Linked DNA regions of Homo sapiens: region 1 is linked to region 2. A link means that fine-mapping ties the variant in region 2 to the expression of a gene that starts in the linked region. Tissue or cell type: whole blood. Region 2 holds a variant in brackets; the other region holds the start of a gene. All regions are shown on one strand. Distances are from middle to middle.

Evidence for each region. PIP is the estimated chance that this variant, and not a neighbour inherited with it, causes the effect.
Region 1: TPPP starts here. The variant in region 2 is fine-mapped to the expression of TPPP in whole blood (TOPMed, PIP above 0.99).

Annotation. Positions count from the first base shown.
Region 1 is chr5:688,330-696,428 of GRCh38, forward strand. TPPP (tubulin polymerization promoting protein) reads right to left here and starts at 5,023. Exons shown (of 4, transcript NM_007030.3): 1 at 4,949-5,023. It overlaps LOC101929898 (a long non-coding RNA gene), which reads left to right and starts at 5,211. Exons shown (of 2, transcript XR_925675.4): 1 at 5,211-5,393; 2 at 5,752-8,099. RefSeq lists enhancers at 4,449-5,031, 5,945-6,823 and a silencer at 5,026-5,275.
Region 2 is chr5:930,078-938,176 of GRCh38, forward strand. No RefSeq gene overlaps it. Among named protein-coding and RNA genes, the nearest start is that of TRIP13, 41 kb to the left of the region's middle. The variant A/G (reference allele first, on the strand shown) is at 4,272.

The DNA of each region.
Region 1 (8,099 bases), 240 kb before region 2:
AGTGTGGGCGGCGCTGAGCACGAGCACCTGGGGCTCCTCGACGCAGTGTGGACGGACCACTCGCGCACAGTATTGATCCACGTTAGCCAGCACAGCAGTGTGCCCACCACGTGGCTTCTGGTTAAAGGTTAAAAACAGGCAAAGCCAAAGCACAGTGCTCAGGAATTGCAGCTTCGACGGGAAAACGGACGGTGAGTAAGACCCCATCCCACTCCCGGAACACGAAGAGAGGCGGCCCAGAACGGCTGGCACTAGAACTGCAGGTGGACTGTGCCAGGTGCCAGGTGGGGCCCTCCCAGCAGGCGGCCTGGGGACACGTGGGCACTGACGAAGGTGGCAGGAACAAGCCTGGTGGGAGGTGAGGCTGAGATGAGCTTCACCCCAGTGGCTCTGTCCATGGCCCAGGCTCCTCAGGCACTGAGAAGGCAGAGGTGCCACCCCGCCGAGGGGCAGAGAAAACCGGCCCTTGGGCAGCCTTAGGAGAAGCGGGGGCCGGTGTGCGCAGGAGAGGGTGGACGCCCCAGATGCAGCCACGGTGGCCAGGTCACCTGCGAGATGCCATGGGTGGGAGATGCAGGTGGCTGTGCAGCGGTGCCCTGGGCTCAGGGGGAGGGGCTGGGTCAGGTCCCCGGGGCTGGCTGGGGCCTGGACATGGCTCCCTGGCCCTGAGGCACCAGCAGCACTTCTGAGTGGGGTGGGACTGGCCTGGTGTGTTTCTGGGCGGGGATCCAGTGTGAGTGGGTGAACAGTGAGTGGCAGCCATGGGCACGCTGAGGTACGCACACTTCACCCACCTCTGTGGGCCAGGAAGGCATGTCACATACTCCTGACAAGGCAGAGGGTGCTGGGAGCTCGCCTGTGTCAGACATGAGGGCCCTTGGACCAGGGCCTGGGTTTGAAGCCACCTCCATACCCCATACACGGTGCTCACTGCTCCTGGCCCCATTGACTGATGACTGATGGCCAGAGGGGGACAGCAGCTGTGTGAAGTCGCCTGGCAGGTGCGGCTGTTGGTGGCACTCCCTGGGCGGAGGCCACGTTGGACATTTGTGAACAAACGAGCAGGTTGGGGTTACAGGTTATAGGATCTGGGAAATGTGGTCTGTGATGCCATGCGCCCTGGGGGATCTCATGGAGCCCACATGGGCAGGCACCTTTTATCATGCCAAGAAGTCAAACGTGGGATGCCATGTGGGGAACATGCCCTGGGTGGGGGAATACCCTGGGTGGAGATGCCATGTGGGGAGGATGCTCTGGGTGGGGAATCTTTGTGGGGGTTGTCCTGGGTGGTGGAGCCTTGGTGAAGGAATGGCCTAGGGGGTGGCTCTGGGAGGGGGTGGCTCTGGGATGTGGATGTCCTGGGAGGGGGATGTCACCTTAGGGGGAAAGCCTGTTGCAGATGCCCTAGGAGGGAAGCCCTGTGTGAGAGATCATCTGGGTGGGGGCTGCCCCGGGTGGGGGATCATCTGAGTGGGGGCTGCCCTGGGTGGGGGATGTCCCCGGTGGGGGATCATCCAGGTGGCAGATCATCTGGGTGGGGGATCATCTGGGTGGGGGATCATCTGGGTGGAGGATCATCTGGGTGGGGGATCAACTGGGTGGGGGCTGCCCTGGGTGGGGGCTGCCCTGGGTGGAAGATCTTATCAGGGGGATGCAGTGGGTTATGGCCCTGTGGCAACCCCAAACACACACACACCAAGAAGAAGCTGGTCTCCCTAGGAGGAGGATCCACGCAGGGCAGCTTGGGGTTTGGCTCGTGGATGCTGGGGACAAGGCCTGAGCCCCAGATGTGGCTGGGCCTGACCCAGGCAGCTCCACCCCTTCCTTCCCAGGAAACACCTTTTGCTCGAGCAGTAGGAACTAGGCGTGTGTAGATTCTGCTGCCTGATCCTGGCTCCTGGCTGAGGGTTTGTGGGCTCAGATGGACTAGACACCCGGCCACAACCCTCCTGGGCATAGCCTTCTGGCTCCCCCAGCCCAGGCGGAGGCATTGAGCGACTCTCCTCACCCAGAGTGTTTTCCCGAAGGCGCTTCTGCCTGAGGGCACCAGGCTGGGCCAGGTACTGCAGGGCGCTGACCAGCACTGGCCTGGGGGCCCCAAGAGCCCCAGATGGCATCCCTCTCACACACTCCCCCTGTCTCACCAACAGCTATAAATAGACTCGGCTCTCTGCTGGCACGGCCTCTCCCGAGGAAGCTTTTAATTCTCTGCGTCCTCTGCAGGGGGTGGCTCCCACAGGCCTGGGAGGGAACAGACTGCCTGACTCTCCAGAGAGCTCCCCAGTCTCCATCTGCGATGGGTGATCCTAATTTTCTTCAGGAAGTTCTCCTGAGCCCTGCGTGTGGCGCTTTGGCCTTTGTGCCCACGGAAGCCCCCTGCGGCCCCTCCCTCCGGGCCCTGCCCAGCCCGGTGCACGAACCCTGTTTACCGATTCCCAGGCCTAGGGCAGCCACTGCCAGTGTGAGGCTTGCAAATTAGGGTAGGGGGTCAAAAGGAAGCCCCTGTTGACCATTTCTGTGAGCATTCTATGCTCATTTCCACAACGAGCATTTATAACCTCGTATAATCGCTAAAACATTTATTGCAACTTCAGGGAATTCGGGAAGATAGACCAACCGCAGCTGTAAGATTAAAACGCAGCCAGTGACCAGCGGAGCTTCCTCCACGCACACGCGGTCCAATCCCCATGACTTCATGTTTTGTGAAGATGCAAAGCGAGTTCATGCCGGCGCCTTTCTGAATCAGAGATCCGTTTAGAAACCATGAAAGCTGCAGACCCCTCCCGGGAAAACGCACACACCCTCCTGGAGCTCGCCTTCTGCAGCCGCTCCGGGAGCCCGCCCCTCCCCCACAGGCCCTCCGAGGATCACGTGGTGGGGAGGCGCTGGCACCGAGCGGCTGACAGGCGCGAGAGCCCAGTTCAAGGCGGCGGCATCAGGCTGCAGCTGCCTCACTCCCCTCCACTTCCTGCCCCTTCCCGGCCTTGGTCCAGCCCCATCTCCTAGTCCCAGGCCACAGGGAGCTGGGTCACCTCCCAGGGGCAGGGGCTGGCTGGGCGTGGGGGGAGACCTCTCCCCCTGAGAAGTCAGGCGGGGAGGGGTGGCCGGGGTGGGCGGAGGGGCCCAGTCCTCTATCGGTCCCCCAGGGGCCCTGCAAGCAGAAGAGCCAATAAACATGCCAGGTGGATCAGCGGTGACACTGAGAGGGAACGCAACACCCCATCAAAACAGCAGCCCCCCAACCCCCATCAAAACAATAGCCCCCAACCCCCATCAAAACAGCAGCCCCCAAACCCCATCAAAACAGCAGCCCCCAACCCCCATCAAAACAGCAGCCCCCAAATACCCATCAAAACAGCAGCCCCCCAAACCCCATCAAAACAATAGCCCCCAACCCCCATCAAAACAGCAGCCCCCAACCCCCATCAAAACAGCAGCCCCCAAATACCCATCAAAACAGCCCCCAACCCTCATCAAAACAGCAGCCCTCAACCCCCATCAAAACAGCAGCCCTCAACCCCCATCAAAACAGCAGCCCCCTAAACCCCCATCAAAACAGCAGCCCCCCAAACCCCCATCAAGACAACAGCCCCCCCAACCCGTATCAAAACAGCAGCCCCCAACCCCTCATCAAAACAGCAGCCCCCAGACCCCATCAAAACAGCAGCCCCCCAACCCCTATCAAAACAGCAGCCTCCCAACCCCTATCAAAACAGCAGCCCCCAACCCCCTATCAAAACAGCAGCCCCCCTAAGCCCCCATCAAGACAGCAGCCTCCCAACCCCACATCAAAACAGCAGCCCCCCAGACCCCATCAAAACAGCAGCCCCCAACCACCTATCAAAACAGCAGCCCCCAACCCCTATCAAAACAGCAGCCCCCCAACCCCCTATCAAAACAGTAGCCTCCCAACCACCTATCAAAACAGCAGCCTCCCAACCCCCTATCAAAACAGCAGCCCCCAAACCCCTATCAAAACTGCAGCTCCCAACCCCCTATCAAAACAGCAGTCCCCCAACCCTATCAAAACAGCAGCCCTCCAACCCCCTATCAAAACAGCAGCCCCCCAAACCCCTATCAAAACAGCAGCCCCCAACCCCGTATCAAAATAGCAGCCTCCCAACCCCTATCAAAACAGCAGCCCCCCAAACCCCCATCAAGACAACAGCCCCCCCAAAACCCTTATCAAAACAGCAGCCCCGCCACTGCCCGGGAGGGACAGGCTTCTCACCTCCCTCGGCTCCGTTTACGTAACCGAAACCGCAGAATAAAGGGCTCCTCAGATCTTCGGGCGCTGCTCCCAGGGGTGCGGGAAGGTGTCCCGGCAGCGCCTCTCCATCGCCACAGGCCCGCGGACAGTAGCCAAGACCCGGGGCAGCTGGAGGCTCTGCGGGGGGCGGTCTGACAGCCCCACCTGCCAGGACGCGGTGGTGTCAGGACCCTGAGATGGGCCGTTTCTGTGGCCAGGGATCTCTCAAAACCTGCTGCGGGCAGTGACTTCATTCCAGCCCTCCACGCCCTAATTTCCCACGCCTCACACCGGCGGCCCCCTAGGCCTGGGAATAGGGAAACGGTTCGAGTCCCGAGCTGGGGAGGGTCTGGAGGGAAGGGCTGCAGGGGCGTCCGTGGCCGCGAAGAAAGGCCAAAGCGCCAGGCACAGGGCCCGGAGACGGTGACAGACCTGTCCCTGGCGCGGCCGACGGTGACCCCCGCTCGCGGCCTTTGCAAAGCCTCCCCGTCGCGTCCTCGCACCGAGCCCGCAGCGCCGAACTCCGGGCATCCCAATCCGGGGGCTCAGGGACGCGCGGGGCGGTCCGGGAAGGGGGCTCGGGGGAGCGCGGGGGGCAGGGGCTGCGGCGCAGGTGGCTGCTGGGGCTGACGGGCCCAGTCTCCGCCCCCGGGTGCCCCCCGCGCCGCGCCCGCGGGACCGAGCCCCGCGCCCGCTTACCTTGGAGACGCAGCGACTGCAGCGGAGGCGCCTCCGCGACTCGGCCGCGCGCGACCCGGTGCTCAGCGGAGCTCTCCAGCCGCCGCCCCGCGCCCGCCCGTCCCGCCCAGCACCGCCCAGCCCCGCCCAGCCCGGTCCCGGGCCCGCCCCCGGCCCCCAGCGTCCGGCGCCCGCCCAGCGTCCCGCCCCGCGCGCTCATTGGCAGCCCCGCCCCCGCCGCCCCACCCGGCCCGGGGACGCGCGGGCGCACCGAGACCTCTGCCTTACAAGGCCGACTCTGCTCAGGCCCCGCGGACCGCCGGGTATCCGCTCAGCGCAGGGCGCGGCCGACCCGCGGGTCGTGGGAACCGCTGGGCAGGGGGCGGCGGGGCCCCTCACCTGGCTCTGGGGCCCCCCGGGGACGACCGGACCCCGATCTCTCCGCCCCGCAGGACGCGCGTTGACGGTGCGGCGGGGGATGGATGAGCGCGGCCGCGGCCTCCTGGGGTGGGGTGGGTTGGCGGCGGGGCCTCGAGGACGGTGCGGGGCGAGCCCCGACCGCGCCCAGTTCTTTAAGGAGCCGCAGACGGTGCAGGGAAGCGGCAGGGCCGGGCTGTGAGGGTGCTCGGACCCCAAGGCGGGGCGCACCCAGGGGACTGGGCTTCCAGGTGGGGGCAGCGCGGCCGGGGATCGACCTGAGCAGGGAGACGGGTCCGTGCCGGGCGCCCAGCGCAGCTGCTCGGGAGTGGGCCGCCCTTCACGCAGGAGTGGAGGAGCGGAGCGCGCACCCCTGACCCCGGCCTCAGCTTCCGTTCTCCCTGCAGGTCGCCCGTATGCAGCGCCACCATCCCGGCCGCTCTTCCAATCTCGCCTTTCTCCGGGCACCTGCCGCCCCTCCCCCGCTCCCCAGACAGGCTTTGCGGAGGGGGCTCATTCCGCCCGGGGCTGCCCGGCCCTCCGCAGGAGTTGGCTCCCCACAAGGTTCCGGGGCCGAGATGACAGGGCGGTTCTGTGGTGCTGGGTGCTGGGACTTGAGGGGCATAGGGGCACCTGCCCTGGAGGAGGCCGAGGCGCAGCCCCCCAGGAGGAAGGGGTGCCTCTGGTGACTTTCAGCTGGACTCTTCCAGCTGGACTCTAGTGCAGCTGAGCTCCTCCCCCAGCCCCGGCTCTGTCCCTGCACCAGGTGTCCAGCAGGCCCTGGAATCCGCAAAGGCAGAAGGGGAAGTTGGGGTGCTGGGTGCTGGGCAGGGGGTGCTGAGGCCTCACAGCCCGGCGGCTTGGCCCCCACCCACCCCACGGTGGTCCCGCGCCCCACACTTCCTCTCCTCTCCTGTGGTTTCTCCTTCCACTCAGTGCTGCCCAGAGATGGGCTTCTGTCTAGTTCTCCTGAGAAATTCCACACTCGCAGCTGGGAAGTCGGGGGACCCCCGAAGCTGTGCGGCGGCCACGCTGCGGCTCCTGCTTCCCTCCTGCTCGGGTGCGGGCTCGGCTGCCTTCTCGTCCCGCGGAGCCCGGAGTGCCTCCCCCTCGGGTAGATCCTACTAACAGCATCAAAGAAATAATGAAATAATCTCTCCTTGGTGTGTTCTTACCGTCCTAATAGGCACAAGGGGACTCTTCAGTGCATTTTCCAAAACCTGTACAAACTCTCTTGACATAAATGCAGTGAGTTTACAATAAAATCGCAGTGGGAGGTAACGTCAGGCTTCAGAGGCAGACATGGTCCTGGAGCCTTTGGGAGGAGAGGAGAGGAGAGGCAGCGGGCGCGGGGCGGCGTCCAGGGGGCTGAGCGAGGTCTGGGCAGGAGGACAGAGCTGAGCCTTGGGCTGCCCTGGCCCCTGCGCAGGACACACAGTGACCGGGGCTGGGGTGGGCACCCCGGTTCTACCGTCGGGAGTCGGCGTGTTCATGGAGTCTGTTTCCTTGTCTGTGGGTGAAACTTTGGCTTGGGGTCACGGGTGTGTTATTTCCCAGCGACAGTCGGTTCAGTCAGCACTTACAAAATCACCAGAAACAGGGGCACAGGATCTTGCTCAGCAGGGAGAGGTGGATCCTGATTCGGGACTCCAGGCTCTTCACCTGGCCATGGCTGCCCGTCCGGTGGCCCTTCCTGGCCCCCAGCTCTTGCTCCACTGCCAGACCTGGACAGCCTCCATTAACCCTGCAATTACTGAAAACCGACTCACAGCCAATGATGTGATCCACGCCAAGTGTCCCGTTATAAGATGTTTCCTGGGGATCCTTAGAAAATCACTACAAATGGGTTGAACAACAGGGCTTTCCTCTTACGGCTTAGGAGGCCAGAAGTCCGAGATCAAGGCCTGTGCGCTCCGGAGGTTCCCACCTCTTCCAGCTTCTGTGGCTCCAGGCGGTCCTGGGTGGTGGCCGCATGGCTCCACCTCTGCCCCTGTCCTCACGGGGCCTCCTCCCCCGAGTTAGTGTGTCTGTCTCTTCCTTTGCTTATCGGGACACCTGTCACTGGATTTAAGGGCCGCCAGGAGAAGCTGGGATAATCTCAAGATCTTTAATCGAATTACATCTACAAAGATCCTATTTTAACGTAAGGTCTTACTCTGAGGTTCCGGGTCAATGTGACTTTCTTGGGTGGGGGTCACTACCACCCCAGCACCAATGCTTTTCCCAGCTCCACCTGTGTTACCGTGTCAGTGACCAGGAGCGTTCCCCGGGACACCTGCCTGCTTGTAGCTGTTTCCACGGCTTCCTGCACAGGTTCTGCGTCCGCAGTTGGGAGCACCAGGCCAGGCAGCTGTCACATAGGAGGAGGACAGCTCTCCGGGACAAGCCCCTGCTGCCTGGCACCCGCGCCCACCCCTGCCTGGGTTTGGGGTTGGGTTTTGTGGGTAGAGGTTCAGGCTGACAGTGGAGGTTGGGAAGAGCAGACACAGCATGGTGGGTAGCACTGGAAGCCCTGGGTGGAAGGGATGGTGGGAGATGCTGGGCCATCTGGGTCTGCAGTGGGAGACCAGGACAGGAGCCCAGGTCCATTGGGAGGCCCCATGCTGAAGACAGAGGCACGGGGAGCGGGGGGAGCAATGGACTCACGCGGACAGCAGCAGACATGAAAAGGCCTCCGAGGCCAAGTGTGAGGATGCCGGGTCCCAGCACTGAGGTGTCCTGCAGCTGGACCTGTCAGGTGTCCACCCACCCCTGG
Region 2 (8,099 bases):
TGTGCCTCCATTGTATCTTGGAAGTAACTAATTTGTTTTTTATTTTACAGGCTCAGGGGAAGGAGGGATTTGCCTTGTCTCAGATGAGACTTTGGACTTGGGCTTTTAAGTTAGTGCTGACTTAAGACTTTGGGGGACAGTTGGGAAGGGATGATTTATTTTACAATATGAGAAGGACATGAGATTTGGGAGAGGCCAGGGGTGAAATGATATGGTTTGGATTTGTGTCCCCACACAAACCTCATGTTGAATTGTAATCCCCAAAGCTGGAGGTGGAGCATGGTGGGAGGTGATTGGATCGTGGGAGCTGATTTCTTCCTTGGCTGATGTTCTCATAGAGGTCTCATGAGATCTGTTAAAAAGCATATGGCACCTACCCTCTCTTTCTCCTCCTCCTGCTCTGGTCAAGTGAAGATGTGCCTGCTTCCCCTTAGACTTCCACAATGATTGTAAGATTTCTCAGGTATTTAGAGCACTGCAAGAACAGACATACACAGGTATACTCCAAATACTTCCACCGTGAGCACCATCACCTCCAAATGTGTTCACCTGTGAGCACCTTCACCTCCCAGTACATTCACCTGTGAGTACATAACCTACTGGTACATTCACCTGTGAGCACCTTCACCTCCCAGTACATTCGCCTGTGAGCACATAACCTACTCGTACATTCACTGTGAGTACCTTCACCTCCCAGTACATTCACCTGTGAGTACCTTCATCTCCCAGTACATTCACCTGTGAGCACCTTCACCTTCCAGTACATTCACCTGTGACAGATTCCCCTCCCAGTACATTCATTCACCTGTGAGCACATTTAATCCCAGTACATTCACCTGTGAACACATTCACCTCCCCGTACATTCACCTGTGAGCACATTAACCTGTGAATATGATCACCTGTGTACAGACTCTCAGGCTGCACCGGAGAATTTAACTGACGCAGAAAGATCAACAGGAGGAAAGCACGGAAGCTTATTTAAAGGAAGCTCTATATGGTGGGAGAGCCTCCCATGGAAGGAATGCCCTAAAGCCACAGAGTTGGACACTCACACCCATGTGAGCAAACAGGACTTGCAAGAAGTGGATGGGTGGATCTCTAGTGGCTCACCGGCCCTAAATCCTCATAGAGCCCAGTGACCGTTTGCTGACTAGAGGTCACACGGGTACCCGGAGTTCCTTGAAATCCCATACCTCTGTTAAACTTTGGGACTTCCAGAGCTCCCCTGAACCAACCCATCAGAACACAGGAAGTTTGAATTTTTCATTTGCATAAGCGAACCTATGTGAGAACTTTCAGTATAAAAGCTGGACCCTCTCTTTGTTCTCTGGAAAGCATCCTGGTTTTACGCTGAAGGCAGCATCTCCCACTTCACAAACTGTTCATAGGAATAGTCTTTCCTCTACATTCCTTTTCAAAGAACTTTTGTGCACCCTGAATTGGAGGTGGAGTAGTAAGCTGTGAAAAATACATTGTGTGCGGAGGCTGCCAAGAAGAGTGATTTTAAGGAGGCTATGCTGAAATCTCTCTGGGTCTGGGCCTCCCACTGTTGATAAGAAAGATGCTTTCCCAAACGTATGGGGAGGGCATCTTTCACATGAGAATTTCGTCTCCTGCTTTTAAGACATGGAATGGCGATCAGCTTAAAGCCAGAGCAATGCCTTTGGGGTGGTGGGCTCTTAGCTCCTTCAGGATCACGCCACAGAAGGAAATCGGTGAGCACCTGCTCCCGCCCTCAGAAAAAGCTGCAGTTTCTTAGGGAGTGACAGCTGTTCATGCCAGCTTTGGGGGCACTTCCCATCTGGAGCAAAGGAGGTCAACTTCGAACAGCACGAAGCCAGCTGCTTCCCAAGGTAAGAAATGTCAACAAAATTCAAGTGACCAAACTCTCCGTTTTGAAGATGGGGACTCTCAGTTTGGGGACAGGCCACACCGCTTCAAGAGAGCATGGGGTTCTGCACCCGCACCTCTGAGCCCTCCTTTCAAAGGACGCATTTGGTTCTTGCCTCGTTGGAAAGGCAGGTGGAGCTTCATTTAAGGAATAATGACCCTGCCATTACTGGCCATTTTGGGCTTGATTCATTTTCCTTTCCATAAACTCAGCCAAAGAGAGTCAAAGGCTTCCTTTAAGACACTCTCTTTTCTGTACTTGGACCTGCAGTGTGGCCCCTGGGAGGTGGACAATGACTTCACTCTCAGCTCACAGCATCCTTGCGTTCTGTGTCAGGGGAGCAAAATCCCATGTGAACTGGGCACCCTCCCTTTCCACAGACATTAACCCCCAAACGTGAGAGCGGGCTCCCAGCCACCTGGAAGGCAGCAGCATCCACGCCGCCGGAGCTGGTGTCTGAGGGGCAGATGGCATGGACAGGCTCCTCCCTTCAGGCATTGCTATGTCCTGGGAAGGAACAGAGAGAGGAATACAAGGATGATGGGAGTCAATTCAGTAATTCCAAGTGGGACATTAACATGCCAGCCCTCTGCTCACTGAGGGACAGAGTGGTCTGCCCAGAGGAAGCATGGTAGCCTGGGCCCGAGCTGCGGGACTGAGTGGCTGCCCTCCTGAAACCCACCCTCCTCTGTCCAAGAGCAGGAGCTGTGTTCAGCTGGGCAAGGCTGATGACTGAAGCCTGGCTGCTGGTGCCTGGGAATAAATCAGAGGCTGACGATGGTCACTGGAGAAGAACAGCAACAAGGCATCAGTGACGATTGCCACCTGTCAGTCGCCTCCTCAGAACCACATCCTGAGCTGAGCTGTGACTAACTTGACCTCTGCACCTCTGTGAAAAAGGATATGGCTGCCCGTTTTCCAGCAAGGAATGAGGACTGAGGGCAGCTCTTGGCTTTGGTTGGCCAGGGCTTGAACCTTCTGTTTCTGGGCAGAACTAGAGCCATAAGGGGTGATCCAAAGGGAAGGCAATTCCTGGGTTCACCCATAAACTCATAACAGAGTTGTTATACTTTCTGCTGAGATAAATGACTTCTTTTATTTCCCTTTTGGAGAACAATTGCCCAATGTTCTGGCTAGTTTTTATTTGGCTTAAATTTTGGAATGAAAGGAAAGTATGACCCATTAGTGAAGCTGGATGTGAAGATGGAGAAAGTGTGTATGCCTGTGTCTCCATGAGAAAGACAAGACTAAGCAAGAAATACTAACCCCTGAGCAGCAGGTCAGGCCCTCTTCTGGAAATGAACCTAAAGTTAGGTCTCTGTGTACTTTCTAATTATATTAGTCTGTCTTCACACTGCTATAAAGAACTATCAGAGACTGGGTAATTTATGAAGAAAGAAGATTTAATTGACTCAGTTCTGCAGGCTTAACAGGAAGCATGACTGGGAGGCCTCAGGAAACTTATAATCATGGTGGAAGGTGAAAGGGAAGCAACGCACATTTTCCTATGGTGGAGCAGGAGAGAGAGAGTGACGGGGGAAGTACCACACACTTTAAAACTTTCAGATCTCATGAAAACTCACTATCATGAGAACAGCAAGGGGGAAGTCAGCCCCCTGGATTCAGTCACCTCCCACCAGGCCTCTCACCAATTCAACATGAGATTTGGGTGGGTACACAAATCTAAACCACAAAATTTGACCCCTGGCCCTTCCCAAAGCTTACGTCCTTCTCACATTGCAAAATGCAATTATCCCTTCTCAACAGTCCCTGAGTCTTAACTCATTTTAGCATTAACTGAAATCTCCACAGTCCAAAGTCTTATCTGAGACAAGATAAGTCCCTTCCAGCTATGATCCTGTAAAATAAAAAATAGTTACTTCCAAGATATAATGGGGGTATAGGCATTGGGTAAATGCTTCCATTCCAAATGGAAGAAATTGGGCAAAAGAAAGGGGCTACAGGCCCCATGCGAGTCCAAAACTCAGCAGGGCAGGCATTAAACCATAAAGCTCCAAAGTGATCTCCTTTGACTCTGTGTCCCACATCCAGGCCACACTGACACAAGGAGTGGGCTCCCATGGCCTTGGGCAGCTCTGCCTCTGTGGCTCTGCAGGGTACAGCCACCATGGCAACTTTCATGGGCTGGTGTTGAGTGCCTGTGACTTTTCCAGGTGCATGGTGCAAGCTGTCAGTGGATCTACCATTCTGAGATCTGCAAGACAGTGGCCCTCCTCTGACAGCTCCACTAGGCAGTGCTGCAGTGAGGACTCTGTGTGGGGGCTCCAACCCCACATTTCTCCTCTGCACTGCCCTAGTAGAGGTTCTCCATGAGGACTCTGCAGGCAGACTTCTGCCTGGACATCTAGGCATTTCCAT[A/G]TATCTTCTGAAATCTAGGCAGAGGTTCCCAAACCTCAGCTCTTGACTTCTGTGCACCTGCAGGCCCCACACCATGTGGAAGTCACCAATGCTTGGGCCTTGCACCCTCTGAAGCCATGGCCCAAGTTGTACCTTGGCCCCTTTTAGCCACAGCTGGAGCTGAAGCAACTAAGATGCAGAATGCCATATTCTGATGCTGTACAGAACAGCTGGGCCCTGGGCCTGGCCCATGAAACCATTTTTCCCTCCTAGGCCTCTGGGCCTGTGTGGAAGGGGCTTCCATGAAGGTCTCTGACATGCCCTGGATACATTTCCCTCATTGTCTTGGCTATTTGGCTCATCTTTACAAGCAAATTTCTGCAGCAAGCTTGAATTTCTCCCCAGAAAATGGGTTTTCTTTTCTACCACATGGCTGCGCTGCAGATTTTCCAAATTTTTATGCTCTGCTTCCCTTTTAAATATAAATTCCAGCTTTATATAATCTCTTTGTTCACGCATATGAGCATACACTTTTAGAAACAGCCAGGTTGGCCGGGTGCAGTGGCTCATGCCTGTAATCCTAGCACTTTGGGAGGCCATGGCAGGTGGATTGCCTGAGCTCAGGAGTTCAAAACCAGCCTGGACAACACGTGAAACCCTGTCTCTACTAAAAATACAAAAAAAAAAAAAATTAGCTGGGTGTGGCGATGTGTGCCTGTAGTCCCAGCTACTCTGGAGGCTAAGGCAGGAAAATTGCCTGAACCCAGAAAGTGGAGGTTGCAGTGAGCTGAGATCGCTCCACTGCACTCCAGCCTGGGTGACAGCAAGAATCTGTCTCCAAAAATAAATAAATAAATAAAAATAATAAAACAAAGAAACGGCCAGGTCACATGGTTACATGTTGAACACTTTGCTGCTTAGGTATATTTTCCACCAGATACTCTAAATCATCTCTCTCAAGTTGAAGTTCCACAGGTCTCTAGGGCAGGGGCAAAATGCCACCAGTCTCTTTGCTAAAGCATAGCAAGAGTCACCTTTACTCCAGTTCCCAATAAGTTCCTAATCTTCATCTGAGACCACCTCAGCCTGGACTTCATTGTCAATATCACTATCGGCATTTTGGTTGAAACCATTCAACAAGTCTAGGAAGTTCCAAACTTTCCCACATCATCCTATTTCTTCTGAGTCCTCCAAACTGTTTCAACCTCTTCCCATGACCCAATTCCAAAGTTGTTTCCACATTTTCAGGTATCTTTGTAGTAATGCCCCACTTTCCTGGTACCAATTTTCTGTATTCATCCATTCTCACACTGCTATAAAGAACTACCTGAGACTGGGTAATTTATGAAGAAAAGAGGTTTAATTCACTCAGTTTCACAGGCTTAACAGGAAGCATGGGTAGGAAGCCTCAGGAAACTTACAATCATGGCAGAAGGGGAAGCAAGGTACATCTTGTGGTGGAGCAGGAGAGAGAGAGCGAAGGGGGAAGTGCTGCACACACTTAAACCGTCAGATCTCGTGAGATCTCACTATGATGAGAACAGCAAGGGAAGTTGGCCCCTTGGATTCAATCACCTCCCACCAGGCCCCTCCTCCAACTTGACATGAGATTTAGGGGTGACACAAATCCAAACCATATCACTAATCTTCCCTTGTGGCGAGATGAGCAGCTCAGTGTTTGCACAGCCTGAGGAATGAGTGAATTGCTGCAACTTAAACTTCCAGCAGGCAGATGACAAGCTGTCCATTCGACACAGTCAAAGGCTTGGTCTTACGCTGCGTGTGTGACTACAAGCAGACCCTCTCTCGCCTGCGTGAGGAAGTGGAGTTGATACCTATTACATGGCTCAACACTTTAGTCATCGGGTCCTCAGGAAGTTGGAAGCCTCTAAGCCCAGAGGCAGCCTGGACCCTTCCTCACAGATGCTTGGTGCTGGCAGTCCCACACTGTCCCCCACGGTGGCAAGCGGTGGTGTTTCTGGAATGTTCCACTTCACCCTCGTTCCTGTGTGTTCTCCTGCCCATGGTCTGTTGTCACGAGGCCTGTGCCCTGACGCTGGATCTGCCTGTCTCCGGCCGCTGCTGGGTCCTGCTCTGCACCTTCATGAGAAGCCATCTAGGAAAGTTTCTTCTTGTTTCTCCCGACTGGGGTTCATTCCCATGGGACTGGGGAACTGGGACTTTGCCCCGCTTTAAAGTTCTCCCTCTGGCTTCCTCCGTGGGCTATAGCCCTGACCCCACCCCAGCACGGAGAGAGCCAGTCGGCATCCTGGCTGCCCACTCAAGCTGGTGCCGTCACAGGGAGAGGCTGGGTTGGGAATCATGACGTCTTTGGATAGAGAGCTTTGCTTTTCACCTTCATGCCAGTTGTTTTCATGAAATCCACAGAAACTTCCTTTAGAAGAAGTCTTACCTAGAAGCCCACCCTGTAAATGAAGTGAAACAGAATTCTCTGGTGAGAGGAAGGTGGAATCTGGGACCCCACAGGTGGTTCTGTGGCCCCCTAGAGACCCCCTTCTGTGGTGGCTCCAGAATGTGGCCCCATGTGGTGTGTTGGTGGCTTCCCATGACATGTGTGCCTGTGCCCCCCACGCCATGTCCTCTTCTTGGTGCATCTGCAGCCCCCTCATGTCTGAGGCCTCCTCAGTGCTCTCTTTCTGGGCCCCTATCCCCATAGCCTCCACCTCCTGTGGCATGTCTGTGGTCCTCTCCTTGGTGCACCCATGGAGAGGTGCACCTCTGTCGTATACTGAAACACATCCGGGCTCTGCAGAGTTCAGCAGGCCACGCTTCTACTTCAGGCTGCCTTTCAGGAAGAAAAGTTTCTTCCCCAGCTTGGGGATTGTGATGGGAAAAACAAGATACCGGGGAGGGGTGATAAAAGAGGAGTGTGGTGGGAACTTGTTCTAGGAAAAACATTCAGTGGCGGACTTCCTGGAGAGGCTTGGACCTGAGCTCTTGGGAAGCTTTGCAATCTCTCCCATCGTGCTGAAGGGGAAACAGAGGCCGTGTAGGTTGCTGGGGCCAGTGGGCCTGTGCCTTGATCCGCCCGGAGCAGGCTGGAGGATTCAGTGTCTTGGTCGCCATGATCCCAGACACCATGCTAGGTGACATAGAGCCTCTGGCAAAACAAAGGGGACAGACTGGCTCCTTCCTCAAGAGGGAGTGTGTTGCTTCAGTAAAGCCACCCTGAGCTTTAAGGCAGAGTTTTAGGGTAAGAGTTCAGGCAGCTGAAAGCCATCAAGTCAGCGGGGCTGAGATCCTCCCAAACTGGGGCAAGGACCAGGGCTTGGATGTCAGAAGTAAAGTCAGAGGCCGTCTGGGCCAAGGGGACCCCTGAGCACACACTATAAGCATGGCGGGCGGTGGCAGGACTGCACCTGGGCACTGAGTGTCCACCACCTGACACCCCTGGGGAGCAGGGGCTGGCATCCCAGGGCTGCACCGCGACCCAAGGAGAGGCTCCTTGACCAACAGTTGCAGGTTGCAGCTCCCAGGTGTGGAGCACACTTGAAGATTCTCACTCTGGTGACCCAAAGCAGGATCAGCTGTGGATGCTTGTGTTTTGTTTCGCTTAAAGTTTCCCTTTTGTGGCTGGGCGCAGTGGCTCACGCCTGTAATCCCAGCACTTTGGGAAGCAGAAGTGGGTGGATCACCTGAGGTCAGGAGTTCGAGCACAGCTGGCCAATGTGGAGAAACCCTGTCTCTACTAAAAATACAAAAATTAGCTGGTCCTGGTGGCGCACACCTGTAATTCCAGCTACTCAGGAGGCTAAGGCAGGAGAATTGCTTAACACCGGGAGGCAGAGTTTGCAATGAGCTGACAGGGTGCCACTGCACTCCACCTGG